Linked DNA regions of Homo sapiens. The protein of the gene in region 1 interacts with the protein of each later gene in a pairwise test. Each region holds a gene or a part of one and is shown in the gene's direction. Other genes may lie near its edges.

The links.
Region 2: the proteins of UBIAD1 (region 1) and KCNJ6 interact in binary tests that used the Homo sapiens proteins (3 or more experiments, as listed by UniProt).
Region 3: the proteins of UBIAD1 (region 1) and PHACTR3 interact in binary tests that used the Homo sapiens proteins (3 or more experiments, as listed by UniProt).
Region 4: the proteins of UBIAD1 (region 1) and MGST3 interact in binary tests that used the Homo sapiens proteins (3 or more experiments, as listed by UniProt).

Annotation. Positions count from the first base shown.
Region 1 is NC_000001.11:11,276,177-11,283,204, forward strand, and holds part of UBIAD1 (ubiA prenyltransferase domain-containing protein 1), read left to right. Parts: intron 1-2,237; exon of another isoform or gene 2,238-2,697; intron 2,698-3,000; exon of another isoform or gene 3,001-3,099; intron 3,100-7,028. UniProt on the Homo sapiens protein: Prenyltransferase that mediates the formation of menaquinone-4 (MK-4) and coenzyme Q10. MK-4 is a vitamin K2 isoform present at high concentrations in the brain, kidney and pancreas, and is required for endothelial cell development.
Region 2 is NC_000021.9:37,913,447-37,920,359, reverse strand, and holds the start of KCNJ6 (G protein-activated inward rectifier potassium channel 2), read left to right. Parts: upstream 1-3,902; 5' UTR 3,903-4,476; intron 4,477-6,913. UniProt on the Homo sapiens protein: Inward rectifier potassium channels are characterized by a greater tendency to allow potassium to flow into the cell rather than out of it.
Region 3 is NC_000020.11:59,838,533-59,845,560, forward strand, and holds part of PHACTR3 (phosphatase and actin regulator 3), read left to right. Parts: intron 1-1,836; coding exon 1,837-1,898; intron 1,899-2,862; coding exon 2,863-3,003; intron 3,004-6,656; coding exon 6,657-6,733; intron 6,734-7,028.
Region 4 is NC_000001.11:165,648,207-165,655,234, forward strand, and holds part of MGST3 (glutathione S-transferase 3, mitochondrial), read left to right. Parts: intron 1-1,634; coding exon of another isoform or gene 1,635-1,641; coding exon 1,642-1,758; intron 1,759-2,807; coding exon 2,808-2,881; intron 2,882-3,771; coding exon 3,772-3,829; intron 3,830-6,072; coding exon 6,073-6,145; intron 6,146-7,028. UniProt on the Homo sapiens protein: Displays both glutathione S-transferase and glutathione peroxidase activities toward oxyeicosanoids, as part of cellular detoxification as well as synthesis of bioactive metabolites.

The DNA of each region.
Region 1 (7,028 bases):
GCAAGCGATGTTTGGTGGCTTGTATCTAGCGGGTGGTAGTGGAAGAGGTAAGTAGCCAGATTCTAAATATGCTTTGAAGGTAGACAGGGTTTGCTGATGGATTGGATGTGAGGTAAAGAGAAACAGAGGAATTAAGCATAACTCAAAGGTTTTTTTTTTTCTTGGACACATTCCACATTTTATTTACATTTTCAGACTAACTTTGGGCTGGGTGCTGTGCCTCATGCCTGTAATCTCAGCACTTCGGGAGGCCAAGGCAAGTGGATCACTTGAGATCAGGAGTTCCAGACCAGCCTGGCCAACATGGTGAAACCTTGTCTGTACTAAAAATACAAAAATTAGCCAGGCGTGGTGGCATGTGCCTGTAGTCCTAGCTACTCGGGAGGCTGAGGCAGGAGGATTGCTTGAGCCCAGTAGGCAGAGGTTGCAGTGAGCTGAGATCATGCCACTGCATTCCAGCCTGGGCAACAGAGAGAGGCTCCATCTCAAAAAAAAAAAAAAAAGACCAACTTTAGTTTCAAAATTATATCTCCATATATGTATCCCTTTTTTGTTGATGTCACTTAACCTTAAGTGCATAGTTTGTTAAAAAAAAAAAACTGTAAGCAAATATTTACCATGTCTGTTACGTGTAACACACATGAACAGCTTTTAACAGAAATTCATCAACTCCCCCCCAACATTTTTTATTATAAGATAGGTATCAAAACAATCCTGAACATATTTTTCATACTACTAGTAGTCAGCACCCACACCACTTCAAAAATTAACACATTTGTGCTGGATGTGGTAGTTTTTACCCATAATCCCAACACTTTGGGAGGCTGAGGCAGGCAGATCACCTGAGTTCAGGAGTTCGAGACCAGCCTGGCCAGCATGGTGAAACCCCATCTCTACTAAAAATACAAAAATAAGCTGGGCATGGTGGTGCATGCCTGTAGTCCCAGCTACTTGGGAGGCTGAGGTAGGAGAATCGCTTGAACCTGGGAGGTTGTAGTGAGCCAAGATCTCATCACTGCATTCCAGCCTGGGCAACAGAACAAGACTCCATCTCAAAAAAATAAAAAAAATTAAAAAAATCAAACACATTTGTGACAGTGTTCATTGTACCTGCTACTTTTTTTTTTTTTTTTAATTTAACGGAGTCTTGCTCTGTCGCCTAGGCTGGGGTACAGTGGTGCGATCTTGGCTTACCACAATCTCCGCCTCCCAGGTTCAAGTATAATCCCAGTAGCTGGGATTACAGGTGCCCGCCTGGCTAATTTTTGTATTTTTAGTAGAGACGGGGTTTCGCCATGTTGGCCAGGCTGGTCTCTCTAACTCCTCACCTCAAGTGATCAACCCTCCTTGGCCTCCTAAAGTGCTGGGATTACAGGCGTGAGCCACTATGCCTGGCCAATACCTGCTACTTTTTAAACAATTTCAACTGCAGCTCTCTTTCACTAAGCAAGATGGATAAAGCATGCCATTTCTGTTTTCTTTTTTCTTGAGACAGAATTTTGCTCTTGTTGCCCAGGCTGGAGTACAATGGCACGATCTCGGCTCACCACAACCTCCACCTCCGGGGTTCAAGCAGTTCTGCCTCCGCCTCCCAAGTAGCTGGGATTACAGGCATGGGCCACCACGCCCTGCTAATTTTGTATTTTTAGTAGAGACAGGGTTTCTCCATGTTGGTCAGGCTGGTCTCAAACTCCTGACCTCAGGTGATCTGCCCACCTTGGCCTCCCAAAGTGCTGGCATTAAAGGTGTGAGCCACCTCTCCTGGCCTCTGTTTTCTTTTTCCTTTCCTTTTTTGTTTGAGATGGGGGTCTTACTCTGTCACTCAGGCTAGAGTGCAGTGGTGCGATCTCAGCTCACTGCAACTTCTGCCTCCCGGGATCAAGCGATCATCCTACCTCAGTCTCCTAAGTAGCTGGGACTACAGGCGCGTGCTACCACGCCTGGTTAATTTTTGGATTTTTTGTAGGGACGGACTTTCACTATGTTGGCCAGGCTGGTCTTGAACTCCTGGCCTCAAGTGATCTGCTCGCCTGAGCCTCCCAAAGTGCTGGGATTACAGACATGAGCCACTGTGCCCAGCCCTGTTTTCTTTATTGAGATTTTTAGTCTTTAGAAACACACATGCTTCCACTGCCATCTGACACTTCTTACCACGCTTTCATCTTGTAAACCTGAATTATATTTCGAGTACTCCAAGTTTATGTTTAAATGACAGTACCTTAACAAGAGAAAAAAATTGGGTTGCATTTTTCCTGTTACCTGAAAACATAATGGGTGTACATATATTAAATATATTCTTACAAATGTCCAGGTCATGTTTACCAGCCGGAGTTCTTTTATTTAACGTGTGGGTATTTTGCATTGTGATATTTAATCAAGACATTAACACGAGTAGAAGGTTGTTGATATAAGACAAGTTTGAGATCCACTAAAATTAATTGTTGTATGTTTGTCCTTCCAGTGGCTGTGGAAGCTTCATATTTTCTTTGGACATCATTAGACGTCTTAGCTCCTGAAGTACAACTTTAATGCTATATGAATTTTGTCATTTTGCTAACACTGGTGTGCTGCGGTCATCCACCATCCCACTGGAGTTATTTATTCCATTCATATTAATTCTTGTTACAAATCTAACTGATGGGGGAGCTTCTGGGTATTTGGGTCCACTTTCTATTTTCAGGCTATATATTCTTTTTTTTTATTTTTGAGACAGAGGCTCGCGCTGTGGCCCACACGGGAGCGCAGTGGCGTGATCTCGGCTCACTGCAACCTCTGCTTCCTAGGTTCATGTGATTCTCCTGCCTCAGCTTCCCGAGTAGCTGGGATTACAGGTGCACACCACCACACCCAGCTAATTTTTTGTATTTTTAGTAGAGATGAGGTTTCACTATGTTGGGCAGACTAGTCTCAAACTCCTGACCTCGTGATCTGCCCTCCTTGGCCTCCCAAAGTTCTGGGATTATAGGTGTGAACTGCCATGCCCGGCCTATATTCTCTTTTCATAATTTGTCCTTGGTGGCCCAATAATCATGCCTGTCCACCTTGTAAATGTCATATCTTCATCATCTTTAAGGCCCCAGTTAATCATACCATTGCCTATCAATAGCTGCATAAGCATAACTCAAAGGTTTTGACCTGAGAACTGGAAGATACCATCTGGAGTGATGTCATCATGTGAGAAGGGCAAGGCTGGGGATAGAACAAGTTTTGGGGGAAAAGCAAGCAATTGACTTCGTGGTTTTTTGTTTTGTTTTTTGTTTGTTTTGAGACAGAGTCTCACTCCGTCTCCCAGGCTGGAGTGCAGTGGCATGATCTCGGCTCACTGCAGCCTCTGCCTCCCGGGTTCAAGTGATTCTCAGCCTCCCAAGTAGCTGGGATTACAGGCGTCTGCCACCATGCCTGGCTAATTTTGTATTTTTAGCAGAGACGGTGTTTCACCATGTTGTCCAGACTGGTCTCAAACTCCTGACCTCAGGTGATCCACCCACCTTGGCCTACCAAAGTGCTGGGATTACAGGCATGAGCCACTGCGCCTGGCCAACTTTGGACATCTTAATGTCTATTAAATCTCCTAACAAAGATGTCAAATGGGTAGTTCAAGTTCAGAGAAGCCTGGGCTAGAGATTACATATCTGGGAGTCATTGGTCTATAGATAAAGTTGTAGGACTGGGTGAGGTCATCAAGGGGGAGGGAGTGTTGGTAGAAAAGTCAGTCCTGGTCTGAGCCCTGGGACACTCCCACATTAGAGGTGGGGGAAGAAAAGGCACAGGTAAAGGGGATGTGAGCAAGCATCCAGAGGAGTAAGAGGAAAATCAAAAGGCTGTGGTGGCCTGGCAGCTAATTATAAAAAGTTCAGTGAAGGAAATCAATGAGGTGGTGTAATAGAAAGTACAAGGTGGTGGTGAAGGGAAGAGGCTGTCTTTGTGAAAGTGACGTTCAAACTAGGACTTGAAGACGGAAGGATAAGGAGCTGGCCACGGGGTGGAATTGGAGTCTGATTGTGATGCTGAGTCCTCCAGGGCTGAAGGACCACTAAGTGCAAATGTGGTGGGTGAGAGAGAGTGTGACATTGGCTAGGATCTACTGAAAGGTCTGTGTGAGCCAGAGGGGGCATGAGACACAGTTGGTGAGTTAGGCAGGGTCTCTGTCATGGCGATCTTAACCAGTCCTACTCCCCAACCTCCAGGGCTCAGTCCTTGGGCCTCTTTTCTCTATCTCCATGTACTCCCTTGGTGATGTAGCTCATGGCTTCAGATGCCATCTGTTAAGCTAGTGACTCTTAAACTCCAGACTCATATCCAACTTCTTGCTCAGCAACTTCTCCTAGAACTGTCTCATAAACATCTCAAGCTTAACATGTCTGAGACCAAATTCTGATCTTCTCCCCAAGGAAACCTGCTTCGCCCACAGCTTTTTCCCCATTTTGCTCAATGGCAGCTTCATCCTAGTTCTTCAGGCCAAAAGCTGTGGGCATCGTCCTTGACTCCCACGTCTCACATCCAGTTCATCAGCAAATTCTGTTGACTCTCCTTTCAAAATGCATGTAGGATCTGACCACTTCTTACCGTGTCCAGCCACCACTGTGATCATCTGTCCCTGGATTTTTGCGGCAGGCTCCCAACTGGTCTCTTTACCTCTGTTCTGGTCCCATTCAGGCTGTTCCCACTCAGCCACCAGAGTAATTCTGTTAAAATATAGGGCAGCCCTGTCAGTCCTGCTTAGAACTCTTCAGTGGCTCCCATCTTGCTCAGAGTAAAGGCCAGGGTCTTTACAGTGACTCCCTAGGGCCCTACATTCTTTGCCCACCTTTTGCCCTCCCCCCAGTTCTCTGACCCACCCTCCTCCTTTCTTCCTGCTCATCCTGGGCCAGCCACACTGCCCTTTCTAGTCCAGGAGCATGCACAACCCCTCCTGCCCCTCCCTCAGGTCCTTTGTAGATGCAGCTTCCTCTGTTTGAAATGCTTTTCCTGCTTCTAACCATGTGGTTCACTTTCTCACTTCCTTCACCTATTTGCCCAAATGTCAGCTGCTCAGTGAGGCCTTGCTTTCTACCTTGCTTAAAATTACACACCCACTCCGTGCCCCCACCTGATACTTCCCCTGCTGCTCTTCTCTGCATTAGTTTTCCTCATAGCACATGTTACCTTCTAATGTGCCATATAAAGTACTTAATTGGTTAATTATCTTCCCCCTTCGACTGCGAGCTCCCTCCCTGCAGTCAGGGATTTCTGTCTCTGGTATTAGCTGAACCCCTAGCACCCAGAGCACTGCCTGGCATGTAATATTACTTAGTAAATATCCAGTGAACAAATGGGAAGGCATTGAAATATACTGAGCAGAGTAGTGACATAATCTGGTTTAAGATTTTTTAAACATTGTCTTTTATTGACATATAATTGACACACAGTGAAATGCACAGGTTTTTAGTGTTGCAGCTTGATGAATTTTGATAAATGTATACAGTTGCATAACCCACACCCCGTCATCATCCAGAACACTTCCATCACCCCCAAAAGCTTCCCAGTGCTTCTTGCCTGTCAATCCCACACTCCCTGCCCCCATCCAGAGACAGGAAAAGAACCACTGTTCTGATTCCTCTCACAGAGATTAGTTTTGCCTGTCATATAAATGGAACCTTTCACTATGAACTATGTATGTATGTATGTATGTGTATTTATTTCAGTCTGAGCTCTCGTCTGGCTTCTTTTGCTCAGCGTGATGTTTTTGAGATTCATTGTTTTATTGCGTGTATCAGTAGTTCCTTTTTTTGCTGACTAGCATTCCATTGTAACATACCACAACTTCTTTTTATCCATTCTCCTTTTCAGGGACATTTGGATTGCTTCCATATTTTGGCTATTACGTCTGAACATTCATGTTCAAGTCTTTTTGTGGATATTTGTTTTCATTTTTCTTGGGTAAATGCCCAGGAGTAGAATTGCTGGGTCACAGGGCAGATGATGTTTAATTTTATGAGAAACTGCCAAACTGTTTTCTGAAGTGGTTGTACTTCTTTACACTCCCCCCAGCAAGTGTTCCAGTTGCTCTGCGTCTTGCCAACTTTTTGACTTAAGTCTTAACAGATTCATTCTGGCTGCCGTGTGGAGAACCGGCCCAGTATTTCACTGTGTAAGCTCATTCAGAAAATGGGGTTGGGAGAGGAGGAATGCCTAAAAGGAAATTCCCAGATGGGCCACGTCTCTGAATCAGGTAGAGCACATGAAGCCTTGGGCCATGTATCAAATGCTAGGAAACAGCTTTCTCCCCAAGGGCTCTACTGTTTTCTTGTGTCAGATAACCAGATCTTTTTCCTCCCCAGAGTGGGTTGCTCTTGGTTTTGGGGTGGGGACAGAGATCTCTGCTCAACCTTGCTTACATCACTTTTTTTTTTTTTTTTTTTCAAAAGACAGAGTTTAGCTCTTGTTGACCAGGCTGGAGTACAATGGTGCGACCTCTGCTCACTGCAACCTCTGCCTCCTGGTTCAAGCGATTCTCCTGCCTCAGCCTCCCGAGTAGCTGGGATTACAGGCGTGCACCACCATGCCCGGCTAATTTTTTTTTGTATTTTTAGTAGAGATGGGGTTTCTCCGTGTTGGTCAGGCTGGTCTTGACTTCCTGACCTCAGTTGATCCACCCGCTGTGGCCTCCCAAAGTGCTGGAATTACAGCGTGAGCCACTGTGCCTGGCCTTTTTTTTTCTTGAGACGGAGTTTTGCTCTTGTTGCCCAGGCTGGAGTGCAATGGCACGATCTCGGCTCACCACATCCTCTGCCTCCAGGGTTCAAGCGGTTCTTCTGCCTCAGCCTCCCGAGTAGCTGGGATTACAGACATGCGCCACTACACCCGGCTAATTTTTTGTATTTTTAGTGGAGATGGGGTTTCTCCATGTTGGTCAGGCTGGTCTCGAACCCCTGACCTCAGGTGATCCACCTGCTTCAGCCTCCCAAAGTGCTGGGATTACAGGCGTGAGCCACCATACCTGGCCGCTTACATTGCTTTTTGCCGAGTGATCTAAGGAGGTGTTCTTG
Region 2 (6,913 bases), on another chromosome or scaffold:
TGGAGTTGTATGCATGCTCACTTGAGGCGTTCTTCCCTTACCAGCCAAGTGTTCCTAGAAGAAGGTTAGATGACAGTTAAACTGTGCCATTTTGCCTTAGTCCACATGCTTGAGCCCACTCACCTAAGTCCTGAGATGTCATCAGGAAGCTGCTGATCACCAGCTTCGGTGTTTCTGTCTATTGGGAGACCACTTTTTCTGGTGCCAGCTGTGACCAATTATTATTGTAGACGGACAGTTTAACAACTGCCTGACCATCACCTGACGGTCTCCTGGCATGCCTGGTGGGGAAGGCCCTCTTCTGCCCTGCTCATGTCTGACTAGCTACCTACTGTAACAAAAATAAGGAAAACACGTAGGAGATAAAAGTGTATCAAGGGAAAAGGGCATAACTCAATAATTGTTCTAAATTATCCTAAAGTTCTAAAGACCAGCCCCAAAATGCCTCAGAGCTAAAACCCCTCTGAAACCCCCTCCTTAGCAAAAATTCTTAACTTTTTACACCTAGAAATATTTCTTAAGAATTAAGATGTATTTCTTAATACATCTCCAAATTTATAATCAATCAAAGAAATACCAACCGCTGTTTACAGATATTCCCTAAATAAGAGACATGAATGAAATCCATCTGAAGTGGCTACTGCTGTCTGTGGTATATACCCTGGGGTTCATTGTCATGCACTGAGAAAGAATTCGGCACACAGACACAGGTGAGTGGGTTAAGGAGCAGAAAGTGTAATAGAAGAAAGGAGAGAGGAGGGGAGAGCAGCTCCTCACGAGCAAGAGACACGTGGAAAAGGGAGAAGGTAGAGGACCGCAGCAGATTTTATACGCAGGCTGGAGAAGGCGGTGTCTGATTTACAGAGGGCTCACAGGTTGGTTCACTCAGGTATGATGTCTACATAGTGTGCTGGGAAGGCTAGTTGCCCCACCCTAATCTTCTTATGCAAATGGACTTTCCAGTTGATTGGCACCATCTTGTCTGCTCGTTTACAGTACACGTGGCTAACAGAGACGGGAAGATGGGACCGCCATATTTAACATCTTTAGTCCTTAGTTCCTGCCCGCATTCACCTGTGCAAGCTCCCAGCTTGCAGGCTGCTTGCTCTCTTAGAAAATTATTTGGGGCTGATTTTCATTAAAAAGAAAAGCCTTACCTAGGACTCCCATACCCTTACTATCTGCCTAAGTAATTGCTTCTTAACTCCTATATCACATTCAGTACACTGGAAGTACAAATGTAAAATAGAATAATTTTAACACTTATCTCTTGATACTCTTTAAGATGTCCTTTTATAGACAAAATAAATTTTTTAAAATTTATGTTCCCATCTCTGCATTTTAAATATATTGTTTATCTGTGGTAGGGTTTTTGTGGAGAAAGCAGGCAGGGGAGTGAAACTGAAAAAGAACTAGGTCTCTTAATAGTTAGACCCACAACAGCTAAGGTCTTAAATCTAAAACAAGTACTGGCCCAAGGGTGGAGACCAAAAACTCCCAACCATCTTAGTTCTGGTGTCAGCCTGTCTAAGGCAAGGCCAGATCTACACATGGGCCAAGAAGATAGAATGGTTTATAAATTGCCGCAATCAATGACAGAGAAAAACAAGATTACCCAAAACAAATGACAGCCCGTCAAGATAATTCAGTTTGTTAATTTTACTAGCTAATAAGTCTCCATTACAGCTTTATATGTGGGAGACAAACCAGTCTCATCTGTATGACATAATCAATCAATTATAAAAGTCACTGTGAGATTTGGAGCACTGATTTACCCTGAAAGATCTTCTCCCCCAGGCCTTGCCTTCACCTGAAATCATAAAATAGATATATAAGTGAGATTTCAGACAAGCTAAACACAATGTAGTTTGAGAGACCAGGCTCTCAGGAGCTCAGAGGAGCCACAATTTGCAGCTCTGAAGCACAGCTCGCCTGATTTTCAGATGTGGCTGCAGTCTCTTAGTTACACCCATGCAGATCACTTTATCAGAACTCTACGGAATAAATGAATGAATTCAGTTAAGCCAATTGCTCTTGTCTCTGGTGTTTATCAAATCCCAGGCTGTGTTAATGGGATCCATCTCATTCAACACGTGCTCTTATGCCATTCACAAAGTGCTATTGCCCACATCACCCCGGCAGCTGTTTCAAGTAGGGGAGTTTTCAAAGTATTTGAAGGAGACAAATAGGTTACTTCCAACTCTTGACTTTCTTATTTAGTCTAATATCTTGTAAGAAAGATACTTTGTGAAATCATTCTACTGGTAAAAGTATATATCATCAAAATTAGCAGGCATACCCATAGCAGCTTCACAGATTAAACAGAATGCCCTTTACACAACTATAGTCAACATGGGTTGTTCTTTTAATGTTCTAAGGCTGTGTCCACCGAAATCCTGCATCTTGCATTTGTATTCCTGGTCTCTCAGGGATTATTTGGTTCAGTTGTTCTTTGTTTATTTGTAACACTATCACTAGATCCAGCAGGCATTGTGGAGCACGTATTACACATACTACAGATATTACACATACTCATATCTTCTGTATATGGGATATATGACTCAGAAGTAATAGCAAGTCAGATTACAACCTCTTAGGGAAAATCAACAGCAAATACAAGCTCACAGGCCGTGTGTACGGTTGACTTTTACATGACTTTGGATGCAAATTGACACAAACACCTCTCCATATTACAGTCATTTTTAGAGGGCAGACAGCATTCTTGAGGGGACCTGAATTGCTAGGTAATTAAAATGTATGTATGTAGAATAAAATAATCTTGGAAATAAGAGGTTTCCGTAAGCCTTCTCTCTAAAATAAGGTCACCTTCTTTGAGGTAGAGATTCTGTGCCTTGTGGAAGGAAAGCCACTTCATAAAGCAGCACAAGAATAGCCAGTTATTGAAAGGGCCATTATAAAATTACTAGCCAATGGTATTCGCTACTCTTACAATTTGTCAATCCATTCATCCCTAGGAAAAAGACAGCATAAAAGAGAGTTCTGTTCATAGGTAGAAGCAATTTATGGGAAGACTTTGGAAATGTAGAACCATTGTTTTTGATGACCATAAGAAAAAGAGGGGGTGCAAGAGGGGAGCACTATGAGGGGCCCCTGGAATAACAGCACAAAGCAAGTTAGATTCAAAGAGTGGAGTAGACCTTTGTCTAAGGGGCTTATCCTGACAAATTCAACTTTGAAGGCAGCCTGGGTCATTCTTGGAAAAGGCCATTCTTTGTCTCCAGTGACCCCAGAGACATCATATAAGGATGGGGTGATGATGCAGCAGCCGGGACCAGGTCCCAGTTGCAGTGGACAGGACAGAAGGGACTGAATGGGGCAGCAGGCTGGGGCGCCACCAGGTGCAAGCAAAGCTCAGGGATAGGGCCCCTCCCCTCCGTCCCGGCCGCTCGCTGCGCCCCCTCTGGGCGGTGCAGGCTCCGGCTCCCGCGCCGGGGCTGCCTCTCACGGATTTCAGCCCGGTGGGAGGCAGTGCCCAGAGCCTCTTTTTCCTTATCTCACAAAACCCTAAAAGCCGAACCCCTACAACCAGCAGACAAAACTGCTCCCCGAGCTTCGGCTCTTTCCTGCTTTCCAGGCGTTTCTCCGGGAATAACTTACTTAGTGGCACTGGGAGAAAGGTTGGGACTGGGGGGTCGGGGACCGAAACCCAAAAGATTCCCCCAGCATGGAGCACCCACGTTTCCAGTGGCGGGGGATGCACGTTGGTTTGTGCCCAGCCCGCCCCCACCAAGCCCGGTCCTCGACGCGCTGACACGCTAGCTGGCATGGGCGGCGGGGTGGGCGTCTCTGGGTCTGTGGCTCTGTCCTGCTCGCCCCCGCCCCTTCCTCCCGGACCGCGCCGGCGCTGTGCGGCTTTTTCCCCAGCACGCGGCGCTGCACTCGCTTTTATCTCGGAGCCGCGTCGCTTCGTGCGCTGCCAGCGGGGCTCAGCCAGTCGGCTGGAATTGAGTAGCATTCATTGAATCTGCGGATTTCATGACGTCTCTCTGCGTGGTCCACCACTTTTCTCCTAACCGGGGATTTTTTTTTTCTTCTGCCACTCTTATCTTTCCCCACTTCATTCCACCCAGTCTCCCTCCCCCGTCCCTGCCCAAACGCGCGCCCCTCCGCCCCTCCCTTGGCCCCAGCGCCCAGCCCTGCTCTCCGCGCTCGGCCAGAGGGAGCCAGTCCGGAGACGGCCGCACCTGGCTGGAGAGGCTGGGCGGGCGGAGGGGTGGAGACCCGCGGACGCCGGGAAGCCGGACCTGGAGCCGGAGCAGCCGCGAGCAGAATGGAGTCTCCTAACAGCCTCTCGGTGCTGATGTGAAATTTGACCATCTGATTCCAGTTTTTTTCTTTTCCTTTTCTTTTTTGCATTTCCTTCCCTCGCCATCCGTCGTGTAGTGAATTGTTCAGTCTTGCTCCGTTTCAAGAGAGGAGATCATGATTGAGTGAAGCCACCCCGTCCGCAGCCAGGTAAGCGGTGCGCTGAGCTGCTCGCAGGCGAGGAGCTGGCGTCCACCTGGGCGAGGCGTTCCGTGCTCTCGGGTCCCCGCGTCCCCTTCCCCAGCTCCGCCGTCGCCGCAGGCATCTCCACTCTCATGAGAAACATTGTGCCCAAGTCAGCCGAAAGGCGAGGGAGAAGCCGGTTACATAACAGAAGGGGAATCTGTTTCATACGGTTTTCATTAGCGACTGAAACTCGCACGGGGGGCGGGGGAAGGAGGGGTCTGCATCCCTGGGCTCGCAGAAACCCAGTCAGTTATTGCAGACATCATTTCAACATCCGCTGGCAAAGACTTAAATGCACTGATTAACTGACAGGTGCGGCTTGTGATGTAGTCATTTACAGTTGGGAAAAGCCTATTGTCTTTGTGGAAGGCAGTCTTCTTGTTCTGCTTTGCATGGAGAGGAGAGGAGACAACACGAAAGGGAGGAAAAGTGAGGGTTGGGGAGAAACATGCGGAGAATGGGAAACAGAATACTGTAACTCCTAACTGTTCTCTATCCTTAAAACCGAAGATGTGCTAGCATGACTAAAAACAGTGAATAGGAAGATCTTCCTAGGAGTAAACTGAATTATTTTGTAATTGGAAGGGAAGAAAAAACACTTTAGATAAAATGAGATGTGTGTGGCATTTAGAGGACTGGGTGGCTGTGGATATTTGCTTCCCTGTGGATATATTTTCATTTTCATCAAAACATTAAGCTTGGATTAGTTTTTAAGTGAAATAACATCAGTATTCCCAAAACCCAATAAAAGCCCAGTGGATCCACAGGTACATCTGTTGTACTAGGTGCAATATGGAGAGATTGTCAGGGGGAAAATATATCTTAATAGAAACAGCCACAGAGGGTGAGGTTAGTGGAGAAACAAAATACCAGAATTTTCCAAAGAATTCCGCCTCCAACCCCCAAAAAAAGGAAGAGAAAAAAAAAAAAACCCCACAACTCCAGTGTTTGGGAGTTGGAGATGTATTATATGTTTAGAGTGTTTCCCAACTGCTGTTATCCAAAGTCTGTCGGTCCCGGGGAGCCCTACGGTACAGGGAGCAATGCCACATCCTGCTAGCCCTGTTCCCTGCCTGCCTTTCTTTTGCTGAAAAAAAGAAACGGAAAAGGGTGATGCCCAGGAACTGCTTAGGGAGAAAAAAGGGCTTGCTACAGTCAGGGCTGAGCTAACTGAGCTTCGCCCATTTTGCCTGGAGAAAGAAAAAGAGCTCGAGTCTCCATGGCGACCCAGGTGGGAGGGGAGACCGCAGCTCCAGTTATAGGGGAAAAAAATTGGACAAAACTTTCCCGGCTCCAGGCAAAGGAATACGCCAGCCGCGTGCCCTGTGGCGGGTCCCAGGGCATCGGTTGTGCCCAACTCCCTGACGGCGACGCTCGAGAGGGCGCCCAGAGCTGGCCGGGTGCCCCTGAAACCTCCCGAAAGTTGCCTGGGGGCCGCCGAGGTGGTGGTTCCTCAGCGGGTTCCGGATTCAGCACCAAGGCCAGAGCCCAGGCGCCGAGGGTGAAGCCTCACCTGTCTGCAGCCCCCAGCAAGCAGTACCCACTCCTTTGGTCGCTGGAGGTCAATCACTTTCTATAAATAAATGAGTCTTTGGCTCGTGCAGAATCTGGATATCAAATTACCCACGGAATTACGTGAGGCAAAGAAGCTTGCAAATCATCCATTTTATGCATGGCGGTGCATCAGAGGACCTATTCAGAATCAAGAACACTGGGACAGGGAAAGACCTGAGCTGAACTGAGAGTGGAGACAGGATTCTGTCCTCAGGGGGAGAAAAAGGACGCGCGCGCGCACAGACACACACACACACACACACACACACACACACACACACACACCCCGATCCGCCTCTGACGAGGGTTGCTAGTTTCAGCTGAGTCCCTTTGGCTTTCAAAAGCATGCATCCCTTGCCCTCTCACGCTCTTCTCTTTAACTTTTTGTTGGGCATAGATGGCAGAAGGGAGCTGTGGAAGCACCCTGGTCAGCGAGAGGCCAGCCAACCAAGTTTGTTATTTCTTTCTTTCTTTTTTAGACGGAGTCTCGCTGTGTCACCCAGGCTAGAGTGCAGTGGCTCGATCTCGGCTCACTGCAACCTCTGCGTCCCGGTTTCAAGCGATTCTCCTACCTCAGCCTCCTGAGTAGCTGGGATTACAGGCGCACACCACAACACCTGGCTAATTTTTGTATTTTTAGTAGAGACGGGGTTTCACCATGTTGGTCAGGCTGGTCTCGAACTCATGACGTTGTGATCCGCCTGCCTCAGCCTCCCAGAGTGCTGGGATTACAGGCGTGAGCCACCGTATCCGGCCCAGCCAAATTCTTTCTAAGGGTCCTAGGACTGAAGAGGGTGGAGATATAGTTTCCTCTCGGTCTAGAACTGGAAGGAATCAAAACAACACT
Region 3 (7,028 bases), on another chromosome or scaffold:
ACTATATTCAGTACTTGGTATATATTCCCTCATTTAATCATTGCAACATATTTGTGAGGTTTGCACTTTTTAATAAATGAATATTGGGAAAAGGATAGCACTAGAGTTCAACCCCAGGTCTGCCTAACTCCATTGCCCATCTTCTTAACTACTGCATCAGAAGCAGTAATACATTTCTGGATATTCATGGAAGTCTCAGGTATAACTGTCCAAGCTGCTGGAGCTATTTCCAGAAAATATGAGTATAGCAGTCCTGATTATGGGTCCCTTGCTTTGTATAATGCAGAGGGTGTTCTGGGTCTGGAAATAAGAAATCCATAAACATATCACTAAGGGGAGCTCAGAAGGGGAGGTCTGTGGGCTTAGGCTAACAGGGAGGACTTCTTGGAGGAGGTCTCCAACAGAGCGCCTGGCACAAAGCAGCACTCTGACAGGAACTTTCAAAGATCAGTTCTCCAAAGACCCTGCTGGTGACCTTCGTAGTAATTATGGCATTTTTCAGGATTAAAAAAAAAAAAAAGATCTGACTTTGTTTCAATCTTTTCACATGGAAGCTGCACTTGGGAGCTGCCCATGGCCTATTTTAAAGAAATCTGAAACATTTTACGTCACGTAAATCCCTCATGGCTTGCCTTGTCTGGACACTTTCACAATGTCTCTCTAATTGTATCAGCTTTCTGATGATACCTTAAAAGTATGGTTTCTTCTGGTTTCTCACTTGTATAAAGAATTAAGCAGAAAGAGGATTTCATTACCTTTTCTAAAACACCCTAATCCAAGATGACTCACTTAAAAAAAATTACTGGAAAGCACAATATATTAAACTCTCATATAACCAATCCCACAAATGTATAAATATTTGAAACGCATCTTTTACATAAAGGCAGATAATGTGAAATTGTGTTAATTGCAAGTGGCAGGATTTCCCTTACCAAAACCTACCAGTGTTTCTAGGAGTGCTGATTGTTGAAATCTCTTTCCTAGGAATGGAGCTATGTTCAGGTCAGGGACATAAGGCTTTATTTAGCAACAGAGAACACCAGAAATAGGACAGCCATTATCTTGTATCCCAGGGGGAAGCTTACGTTTTATACTATATCTCAGCACTTTCGTCTATTTTTGGCTTCCAAGGGTAGGTGCGAGCACAGCTTGAATGTTAATAGTCACAACTTACCAAGCAAAGCTAATTTTGCTGAGGGACTTGGGCTCCTTTAAAAGGCACTGTCATATAACAGTGTTCACGCTTCAGCAATGGAGAGTCAGCGAGGTTCATAGATGTGTTAAGATTTGAAATATAGTCTGAACATATAAATTCCAGGCAAGCATATGCTGCCCAGGAGCTGAAGAAGGTGTTCCATGTTTTATGTTGGTTAAAAAGTCTGTACGCTTATTAAGGAAAAAAATTAGTGGCAGTGCTATTTATATTGAAATGTACATATACATTTATTTACTTAGTCTACTACAGCTTTTTTTATGTGGCATCTAAGTGCTAGATGTAAATATAAAGATATTTGGGGAGAAAGACAGACACAGAGGTGTCTACTTCCTTAAACAAACAGCAGCCATATCTGTGGTTGTTTCTAATGCACAGAAGGGCTGAGGAGACCAGGTTGGGATGACAGCAAAGCTTTGCTTAGTACAAGTATTTCTGTGTAATGAGACCATGATCTCCTGAGCAGTGACTGACAAAGTGGGAAGAAAACACCATGAGTGATGTGGAATTAACTTCAGCTCCCAGAAATATGGATATCTTGGGAACACTTCCCTGCTGAAGAGAAGAACGTTTCAACCTGTTTCTCTTTGTTATTTTTTTTTTCCTATTTTAATCTTTCACAGAAAGGAATGATCAGACAGAGCAGGAAGAAAGAAGAGAAATCAAGCAAAGATTGACAAGAAAGGTAGTATAAGCATTTTATTGCCTGAATAATAAAAGGTGGTCTAGAGAACAGCTGCTTCGGTAGCAGGTGGGATGGGTAATGCTAGGTATCACTCTGTGATCATGAATAATGTTCTCCTGGACATCATGGCATCAGTTAAATCAGGATATTTGCTCAGCAACAATGAATTAACTCCCTCTGACGTTCCCTATGGACGAAGTCCTTCCCTAGCACGGTAGCACTTGGAGAGGTGCACAATGCACATGACATTTTTTACTTATGTTCAGGTGGAAGCCAGAAGTTGATTGGCATTTTCTTAATTTACAGTGTCTAGGAAAAGCATACCTGGGTATCAGTGTTTTAGTCACATTTTACACTCATCGCTTTTGTTCACCTCCAATATGTCTAGAAGTTCCTCAGTTGCAGAAAGCTTTATTAGACTCAAAGGTTTGTTCTCTGTGACTCAAACAGTTAACATTTACTATGGCCAATACAGGTAGCAACTCTATAAATCTTAATCTACTTTTAAAGCCTTGACCATTTCTAAATTCAAGTGTTCTGGATTCCCCTTCTTCGTTGTGCTGCTCCATAATAATTCTCTTGAAATTAACAGAATATCCTTCCTAAGCTGGACATATAATAACTTTATTAGTACTTTTAAAAAGCTTATCTAATTGTATCTGAAGCCAGTGATGCCATAAAATCTAAGTTAATTCACTAACCATTCCTTGAGCTGGTGCTATGTACTACTGGGGGTGTGACTCCTTCTGATAAAATATGTTGGAGGAAGGGGGATTGTGATTTAAGAGTACAGTATATAATTTCAGCCCTTCACATTAGAGATTGCTTGTATTTGGGTTATATTTTCCAGTTTCAGGTTTTTTTTGTTTTGTTTTGTTTTTTAAGAGAAGTGCTGTTTGTTCAGAGTACTTCAAAAAAGCTAGTTTGGCATGTGATACTTAACTATGATGATCTTTAATTTTAGCTTAATCAGAGACCCACTGTTGATGAATTAAGAGACAGAAAAATTCTGATACGATTCAGTGATTACGTGGAAGTAGCAAAAGCGCAGGACTATGACAGGAGGGCAGACAAACCCTGGACGAGACTGTCAGCAGCAGATAAGGTACCTAACTGCCTGTGCTGGTGGGGGGTGTTGGATGATATAATAAAGGCAAAATATGTCATGCCAGGGAGTTTATTCATAGACAATGGGAGCCCTCAACTATTTAAGGGTATACTGCAGTAAATATTGGTTTCTCAAAGATAATTCAGGGTCAGATTGAGAAGTGGTTCTCAGCTAGGTGACAGTTTTGCCCCGAGGGACATTTGGCAATGTCTAGAGACATTTTTGATTGTCACAACTCGGGATGCTACTGGCATCTCCTGGTAGAGGCCAGGGACACTGCTCAGCATCTCACAATGCACATAACAGCCCCCACAACAAAGGATTATCTAGTACCAAATGTCAAGACTGTGGAAATTGAGAAACCTTGGTATAAGGGATAAATCAAAGGTGGGCAAGGCTGCCATAAGAGATCAACTGACAAGTTTAAACAAAAAGAGCTACAGTGGGGACAAAGAGGCATTCAAGAAAGCCTCTACAGTATAGAAAAGGTTCTAGATTCTCCCCCTGGACTTGTGCAGTTTGAGGTATCTCTGAGAACCTCCTAAGAAGTCTGAACTGAACAGCTAGAGAGGCAGGAAGAACACAAGGAGGTAGTAGGTCATAGAGTCTCTGCATGACATTTGGTGAGCACAGAGAGGGTCAGTTCTTGTCTGTGATCAAACACTTGACTGGCAAGATTTAAGCCCAAGAGTGTCCATAGAGTTTTGTCACCTTCTTGCTTCTATTAATTTTCAGAAGACTTAAAGCCTTTAGGAAGAGAAAAATTATACATTCAGGCAAGGAATTTGCTAATTGTTCTTCATTCTTCATATGCTGAGTATGAGTATGTACACAGATATTGCATCAACTTGGAGAAATGTGAACGTGTTGGACTAACTTGCCTGGTTCTTTGTGACTGATGTGCCCAGAGGATCACAGTGATGCGAGGAGAAGTATCTTTGGTGGTCTGCAGATGTGTTTGAGTATGAGAATAATATACCCCTAAAGTTCTTAAAGACTTTCCTTGTCCCAGAGGCTGTGTTTGATGTTTTCAGTCTCATCAGGTCCCTCGAGTGTTTATCTGAGAAAGAAGTACATGATGCAAGTGGGCCTGGGGAAGCCAAAATATTAATGTATGCTGAAGTTAGAAAGGCTTATTTCTAGATTATCTCTGATTATAAAATTCCAAGTTCACCAAAAGCTGAAGTTTACTCATTATCTTGGTGTTCCTGTTTCATTAGTGCCCTAAGCATGTGCTTGGTCCGTTTAGGTATGGAGTGAACGGAGTTTGGGGAAGGGTTGTCTTCCCACTACAGTTCAGCAAATTAATGAATGGAACACTTACATAATACTAGTCCTAGCCAGAGCAATCGAGCAACAGAAAGAAAGGGCATCCAAACTGGAAAAGAGAAAGTCAAGTTATCCCTCTTTACAGACAATATGATCTTATACCTAGAGAAACCTAAAGACTCCACCAAAAACTTAGATCTGATAAATTCACTAAAGCCATAGGATACACAAAATCACACAAAAATTAGTAGCATTTCTATAAACTAATAATGGACTAGCTAAGAAAGAAATCAAGAAGGCAATCTTATTTAAAATAGGTACCAAAAATACCTGAAAATGAATTGAACCAAGGAGGTGAAAGACCTCTACAAGGAAAACTACAAAACAATGATGAAAGAAATTGAAGAGGCCACACACAAATGGAAAGATATCTCATGCTCATGGATAGAAAGGACTAATACTGCTAAAATGACCATAAAATGACCAATGCAATCCCTATCAAAATACCAATGTCATTTTTCACAAAAATAGTAAAAGCCATCCTAAAATTCATGTGAAACCCAAAAAGAACCTGAATAGCCAAAGTAATCCTTAGCAAAAAGAACAAAGCTGGAGGCATCACACTAACTTCAAAATGTATTATAAGGTTATACTACCAGCATAATATTGGTATAAAAGACACATAGACCAATGGAAAAGAATAGAAAACCCAGAAAAAATTCACTTATTTACAGCCAACTGATTTTTGACAAAGGTGCCAAGAACATAAACTGGGGAAAGGACACTCTTCAATAAATGGTGCTGGGAAAATTGGATATCCATATGGCAAAAGAATGAAACTGTACCCCTATTTCTTACTATATACAAAAATCAACTTGAAGAATAAAGACTTAAATGTAAGACCCCAAACTATAAAACCACTAAAAGAAAACACAGAAGAAACAGTCCAGGACATTGGTCTAGGCAAACATTTTATGGCTAAGACCTCAAAAGCACAGATAGCAACCAAAATAAACAAATGAGACTATATTAAACTACAAAGCTTCTACACAACAAATCAACAGAGTAAAGAGACAACAGGGAATATGAGAAAATATTAATATCTGCAAACTATTCATCCAAAAAGGGACTAATATCCAGAATATACAAGGAACTCAACAGTCAAAAAACAAAACAAATAATCCCATTAGAAAGTAGACAAAAGACATGAGTAGACATTTCTCAAAAGATGACATACAAATCGCCAACAGGTATATGGAAAAAATGCTCAACATCATTAATCAACAGGGAAATGCAAATCAAAACCACGATGAGATATCATCTTATTCCAGTTAGAATAGTTATTAAAAAAATAAAAACATGCTGGAAAGGATTAGGAGAAAAGTGAACTTTTATATACTGTTGATGGGAATGTAAATTAATGCAGCCATTATGGAAAACAGTATGGAGACTCCTCAAAATATTGTTTAAAAACTATATGATCCAGAAATGCCACTTCTAGGTATACACGCAAAGGAAATCAAATCAGTACATTGAAGAGATATCTGTACTCCCCTGTTCACTGCAGCATTATTAACAATAGCCAAGATACAAAATCATCCAAGTGTCCATCAATAGATTAATGGATAAAGAAAATGTAGTGCGTGTATATATGTATATGTGAATACAGTGTGTATACACAGCCACACAAAATGGAATATTCCACCTTAAGAAAATCCAGTCATTTTTGACAACATGTATGGAACTGGATGTTATTATGTTAAATAAGCCAGGCACAGAAAAACAAATATCGCATGTTCTCACTCATGTGGGATCAAAAAAGTTGATGTCATGGAGGTAGACAGTAGAATGATAGATACCAAAGGCTGGGAAGGGTGGCAGGGTTTGGGGAGAGAAAGAGAGGTTGGTTAACCAGTAGTAACATACAATTAGAAGGAATAAGTTCTAATGTTCTATAGCAGAGTAGGGTCACTACAGTTAACAACTATGTTGTGTATATTTCAAAACAGCTAGAAGAGAGGACTTAAAATGTTCCCAACACATAGAAATGATAAATACTGGAGGTAGACATCCTAAATACTTGATCATCACACAGTCTATGCATATAACAAAATATCACATGTACCCTGTATATATGTACAAATATTATGTATCAATAAAATTTTTACAAAGACTTCCAGAATATTAGCTACATACTAGCTTGGTAGGACTATAATAATGAGTATGGCAGTTTTAATGATGAACCAAAAAATTGTTTGTTTTTTTCTGTATATTACATAATAGAGTCAACAAGGATTAGGAATGGTTAATTTATAAACACGATGCTAATTTCCTGATTTTTTTAATATCCTGTAAAACAATGTCTTGTTTTTAAATTTCAGGCAGCAATTCGTAAAGAATTAAATGAGTACAAAAGTAATGAAATGGAGGTACATGCATCAAGCAAGCACTTGACAAGGTCAGATTTGTTTCTGTGAATTTCATGGTACTTATTTTTGAAACACACACCGCCTTCCCCCGTCCCCCGCCACAAACCATGTATCCAGCTATACAAATTCAGCATTTTTCCAGAGAACTCTATTGAACAAATAGAATGTACCTCAAGTAAGAATGCTGCCTGCTCCCATTATTTCCTTTAGGACTTGGTGAAAGGTGATATGTATGGTAACAATATCGGTTTATTTAAGTAGTTAATGCATATTTAACAAAAATAAGCCTCAAGGCAATGAAAGTAATTTTTCTGTGTATTTAAT
Region 4 (7,028 bases), about 150 Mb from region 1:
TGCTGACCTGTGGAACCAGCCCGCTGCAGTGTGTGCCCCCCAGCCCCCGGAGGGGCAGCGGGCATGCCTCAGAGAGCAGCTCAGAGTGAAGACGGTAGAAGGGGAAAACTGATGAGAATTATTGTGAATCATGGTGGGGAGGAGGGGTTTTAAGAAGTTAGGCCTGTTAGGCTGGGTGCGGTGGCTCACACCTGTAATCCCAGCACTTTGGGAGGCCGAGGTGGGTGGATCATCTGAGCTCAGGAGTTCAAGAATAGCCTGGCCAACATGGCAAAACCTCGTTTCTACTAAAAATACAAAAATTAGCTGGGTGTGGTGGTGCGCATCTGTAATCCCAGCTACTTGGGAGGCTGAGGCAGGAGAATCACTTGAACCCGGGAGATGGAGGTTGCAGTGAGCCGAGATCGTGCCACTGCACTCCAGCCCGGGCGACAAGAGTGAAACTCCATCTCAAAAAAAAAAAAGCAGTTAGGCCTATTTTGCTGTGCTAAGAGAAACTTACTTTTAATGAACTGAGCTGCATGCCTATCCCAAATTCTGTTTTAAGGAAGATGCTCTGACCACAGTGTCAGTTTGGCTCTAAAGTTTCAAGGGATACTGAAAGGGAATATTGGAACCAAATGAATCTGAATGGGAATCCCAGGTCTGTCACTGTCTGTTTTAGACCTTGGAAACATTACTTAACCTCTTTTGAAAATAAGGATTTACCATCTTGTTGGTTGGTTTGTTAGGATGATTAGATACATTCCAGATCAGGGTAACTCTCCTAGGTTAAAAGCAGGGACTGAAGCCAGGCAATTACCAGGGATGGAAATTTTAAAGCTGACGGCAGAACACACACCAGAGCTGCTGGCTCGTGGAAGCCTTTGAAGTGATGATTTGATGGGCAATCTGAGTTCCTCAGGAGCTGCCCAAAGCCTCATAGGCTCAGGAGCCATGCTCTGCTTTCAGAGTACTCAACCTGGGCCTTCCCCTACCTGTGTGAGATGTCTGCTGCTGCACCCGCACGTGCCCCAGGATCGAAGGGAGGCCTCAGAGTCCTGCCCTCACAGTGTCCCCCATGTCTGAAGGCAAAAAACTTGGAATCACTGTGCATATACTATTTTGGATGCTCGCTTTCTTGCTTTCTCACTTTCTTGCTTTCTCTCTCTCTCTCTCTCCCTCTCCTCCCTCCCCACTCCCTCTCTCTCCCTCTCCATCCCTCTCCCCACCATGTCCTGCTCCTCTCACTCCCTCCCTCCCCCTCCCTATGTAATGTATACTTTAGCATTTTACCATGTTAAATATTTTTTCAATAATGTGATTTTTGTTGGCTATATTATTCTACAGCAACGACTACTGCAGTGGTGTAGATAAATCTCATAATGTTGATCAGAATCTCCCAGGCACAAAAGAGAAAAAAAGATACATGACTGTATACTTTTCTGTGTATAGACTGCATAGTTGAGTAATTTTTAAATTATTTTATATGGTACTGTCTTTGATGACTTCTCAGAAACATCAGATTGATTCATACCTTTTTTTGGTCTCTATTTACTCATTTGCCAGTAATAAAGCATCTTGCTCCCTAAGGCTTCACACCATGAAATAGCCACAGTGCTGGGGGCCGTCCCAACGTGTTCTTTCTTCCACAGACGCAAGATGGCTGTCCTCTCTAAGGAATATGGTTTTGTGCTTCTAACTGGTGCTGCCAGCTTTATAATGGTGGCCCACCTAGCCATCAATGTTTCCAAGGCCCGCAAGAAGTACAAAGTGGAGGTAAGTGGGAACACAAGCTGGTGCCCTTGTAGGCTTGTCTGGGGGCCACAGGCTTAGCCAAGAACTTATTTTCAGCCATGGAGGGAGAGGCAAGGAGCTAGTTGTGAGAAGTGGCAGTTTCAGGACTGTGTTAGCGATTCTGCTTCTTCATGGTAGGAAAGAGGCAAGAAATACAGGGCCCTGCTAGGGAGTAGTTTCCATCTTGTTTGACTTTGTCTCTTCGGTAGAAAGACCAGGAATGCTGGGATTCCAATAGTACACTTCTGCTTGGAGCTATTTGCTAGGAAGAGAGTTACTGTATTTTCCACAGAGGGTTAAATAGCAATATTGTTTCATGGTGTGCCACTTTAAAAATGATGTCTTATGGTGATTTTCCTGTTTTCCAAGTAGAAAAGAGGTATGTGGTGTTGAGATTAGCCTGGACTTAGACATAGGAAGGTGGTCTATTAAACACTTCCTTTAGTTTTAGGTGATCTAGAAGGGATAATTACCAAAGTTGTCCCTGGTGAGTGGTTTTAAATGTCTGTTTCTGTTTAGCAACTTAATAATTAAACTCCCTTACTAGAGCTTCTTTTAAGTTTTTATATTTAGTTTCTTCTTTTTTTTCCCTTCCAGTGGACACTTCCATTAAGATTCTCACACACTCAATTTCTGTTCTTCTATTAAGGGAAATCTTAAAAGGATGTGGTATTTGATGACTCTTAGGAAGGCTCTATTTCCCTACAGTATCTTTGTAATGCATCTGAAATCCACCATTGATGCTTAACGTCAATGAAAAGCACGGAGTTTGGCGCAAAGCTGCCTCTTTCCCTTGTGCAACTACAGCGCAGACATACATTCTTATTCCTGGATATTTAATAGAAACATTGACTCTGCTTCTGAGAATTGAGACCCTTGTCACCATAAATATTTAAGCAGAAATTGAATGGTCATCTATCAAGGGTGTGAAAGAAGATACTTTGGAATATATTGTTTTTAAGGTTCATTTTAACTTTCAACACTGAATGCTCCTCTTGACCATCTGATCAGTATGTGCTTTGTTGTGACAGTATCCTATCATGTACAGCACGGACCCTGAAAATGGGCACATCTTCAACTGCATTCAGCGAGCCCACCAGAACACGTGAGTGTCGGCCCTGCCGGGCACCAAAGACATCTGCAGAGTGGGTGTTTTCTGTCTAACACCTCAGCCCTTAGTGCGCTGTATTTGCTGAGTCATAGTGATGGTGACAATCATGGGCACCTCATTAAAAGTATTCAAAAATTATGTATGTGAACACATTGACTATTAAGCAAACTTAAGAGTGGTTGGAATGGTGGGATTTCGGGATATTCTTTTCAAAAAATGTCTTCATGGTTGCATTACCTACTACAGTTTTGCAGCATGACCCATCTAAACCGATGTTGACTCTCCCAGGCCTAGGGAGTGAAGAGGTTTTGAATGCTGTAAGGAAACCCACTCTGACTCACCAGGACCTTCCACTTCCATTTGTTAGATGTGAGGTCCTTTTACTCAGCATGTTCCAAGTGACCTCTAATCCCATGCAGAGCAAAGGAGGGTGGATGATAGTGACCAGGTCTTCTCCCTGCGGTGAATGTTTATTTTTACCCCCAAGCTTCTAACTTGGCAAGGAAGATGTAAAGATTCATAGTGCTGGCTGGGTGAGGTGGGCTCACACCTGTAATCCCAGCACTTTGGGAGGCCGAGGTGGGTGGATCACTTGAGGTCAGGAGTTGGAGACAAGCTTGGTCAACATGGCAAAACCCCATCTCTACAAAACTTAGCCAGGCATGGTGGCACGCACCTGTAATCCCAGCTACTCAGGAAGCTGAGGCATGAGAATTACTTGAACCCGGGAGGCGGAGGTTGCAGTGAGCTGAGATCATGCCACTGCATTCCAGCCTGGGTGACAGAGACACTCCGTCTCAAAAAAAAAAAAAAAAAAATTCATAATTCTACACAGGCATACTTAAAAAGGGCACTTTTTAAAAGTTTCTTTCTGTCAATTCCAGGTTGGAAGTGTATCCTCCCTTCTTATTTTTTCTAGCTGTTGGAGGTGTTTACCACCCGGTAAGTTTTCCAGGAGGTGTTCATCTATTTGGATAGTAGTTCACTGAGCTATTATCAGGGACAGAAGAAGGAAATAAACATTTAATGAATATCTTCAGTGTCTAGGCACTGCATATTTAAAAGGATTTTATTCAATTATTTCTTACAGAGTTCTTTAAAGGAGATGGGATTTTCCTCATATTTTACAGATAAGGAAAAGCCTCTCATATACTATTTAAACTTCACAAGGTCAAATAGCTACAGAGTAGAAGGATTAGAATTTGAACTCAGGTCTGTCTGGTTCTAAGTTTCATGTCTATAAGAGTTCATTTGTTATAGTAATTCATTCACACAACAAACTTTCACTCACCACCTGGGGTAAAGCAGTGATCAAAGCAGACAAAGACCCCTGGTTTCATAGAGCTTGCCTTTTTGTTGTGGGGTGTGGGGTGGTCACAGAGAAGAAGCAACCTAAGTAAATTACATCATGTGTTAGGAGGTGGTGAGTGCAGAGAAGAAAACAAAGTGGGGAAGGTGGAAAGGGGATGTGGAGTGGGATAATTTTGAATAGGGTGGTCAGGGAGGGGGGCTTTGCTGAGATGATAGTTAAGCAAGTATAAAAGGAGGTGAGGGAGCAGGTGCTGCACGAGTTTCCCCAACCTCCAGCCAGAAGACAAGCAAGGCCTGAGGCAGGCACCTGTCTGGTTTGTTTGGTGAGCAGTGAGAAGCCAATGGAGCCAGGAGAGGGGCAGCAACAGAGGGCAGAGGGGTGATGAGGCAGGTCACTGGGGACTTGCAGGCCTCTGCAGTATAGATAGCCCTGTGGGATGGAGATTTAGTCTGCACTTAAACATATCTAAATAAAGCAAGTTTATCAGCCTCTAATTAATTGCCATTTGGGTCTTGTCTTAGACAGAAGTGTTCCCCTTTTCTGAGGACAGATTATCTCCTGAAACCAAGTTCTGACCAGAGTGGCCCTTCAGACTTCTGGTTCTAAGCCTTTCCTAACCATCTGGTTCATCCTGAATGCCTTGTACTTTTGTTAAAAAGCTGCCAGAATGGCATATCTACTGCTTATGACCTTGAAGGCCTGCATTTTTTTCAAAGAAACATCTACTGCTCTTGTATCTCTTAGAAAATGTATCTTTCTGGTGCCTCTAAAGATCCCCATTCCTAGCAAGTGACTAGACTAGCTGATCTGAATAGCTCAGGTCTCTAGATTAGTCCTCATTTGGTGTCCCCACTCCATCCCCATTCCTATCACACATCCCTGGATCCCATTCCTTATGGGTAGTTCTGAAAAATAAGAGCTAGTTTGGGGACAAGCACCTAACAATTGTTCCTAGGTTGCCAGTCATTAGGCAACATTATAGTAAAGAAGGGCCTGGCAGAGACTAGAGCTGCTATATCGTGACTTGAGGGACTGGTGTTATTTTCATTTGTTTCACCCTCCTGTTGACATTTAATGTTACCCAAAATCAACTCAAACAAACAAAAACCCTGATGCAGTAACCTTATCCCTAACAGTAGCACTGCTGAGTGGGAAAGACACTGGGGAAGGCGGCCTTCTCACATGCTGTCTTCTGTGTTCTCTCCTTGCTTATTTTAACCAAGGAAGTCACCCCAGCATGACAGCCAAAGGGATGGATTTTTCATCTAAGTTTTTATTCTCTCTTCTCAAGGACATTGGGAACAGGGAGACTTTTCCCTCGAAGACCATGTATTCTGGGAGAAGCGCTCCCCTTCTTTCTAGTGGAGCTACACCCCCAGTGTAGCCTGCAGAACCACCTGAGCCCAGCCCTGCCAGTGACTGACTTCACATAGAACAGCAGCTGAGTCTTCAGTCAATCTCATGCTCAGAGGCCCATTTGAGAAAACGGCATTTCCCCTAGTCCTGACTTTGGGGCAGTTCTCTTTTCTGGCCTGCCCTGAGACCGGCTGGCCCACATGTCCTTCTCTTGAGCTCTGACACAAGTTCCCCAAGATGCCCAGGGCAAGTGGGGGGATTCCTTCTATCCCACCTGTCTAGGAGAAGGCCAATACTCATCTCCCAGGTCCACAAGCCAAGCCATTCATAGAAGAATCACAGATATTTTATTTTCCCGCTGAAACTAACTTAATTCTACCTAATTTGCGTGGGGAGTAGTTGGCCAAATCATCAAATTGTTAACTTTTTGCTAACATATTGTGTAATCAACCCTAGGTGTTAAAAAAGGTTTGCTTGTTTCTTTCATGCAAATACTAATGTAGCCCTTTTTTCTTAGCGTATAGCTTCTGGCCTGGGCTTGGCCTGGATTGTTGGACGAGTTCTTTATGCTTATGGCTATTACACGGGAGGTTAGTATATATTGACATTTGCCAAGGAAACAACTTTAAAATTTTAAATCCTATGCTGGCCAGGCACAGTGGCTTACACCTGTAATCCCAGCACTTTGGGAGGCGAAGGCAGGCAGATTGCTTGAGCTCAGGAGTTGGATACCAGCCTGGGCAACATGGTGAAACCCTGTCTCTACAAAAAATACAAAAATTAGCCGGATGTGGTGGTGCACACCTGTAGTCCCAGCTACTTGGGAGGCTGAGGCGGGAGGATTGCTTCAGCCCAGAAGTTTCAGGCTGCTGTGAACCATGATTACACTACTACACTCCAGCCTGGGAGACAGAGCAAGATCCTATCTCAAAAAAAAATAAAATCTTATGCTACTATATTTTTTTTCTTGGGAATTTGAGAAAAGGGGAAGTCACCTGATATTTAGGTGAAAGGTCTGTTTTCTTTTTATTAATCTTTCAATTGTAACGAAACTTATTTTTATTGAGCATTTTCTATGTGCCAACCACTACTCTAAGAACTTTGCATATGTTATTTAACCTTACAACAATTCTGTAATACAGATATTATTGCATTTTACAAATTAGGAAACTGGGACTCAGCATGATTAAAGCTGTAGGTCACAGAGCTACTAAGCGTAAACTAGTAAACTAGGAATCAAACCCATGCAGTCCGACTCCAGAGCCTCACCATTACTATACCTCCTATATCTGAGTAAGGAGGAGGAAAAGCCATTTTTAGCTGTACTTCTTTGAAACAGAGGGAACTCCTTCCAAAGGTCCTAGAGCAAAGTTGCTGTAATTATTATCCCATAATTTTCTAAGATCCAAGCAATACTACTGTGGCACGTTACTTGGCATGTGGTATCTGACTTGCCAACAGCTTCAGGCTAAA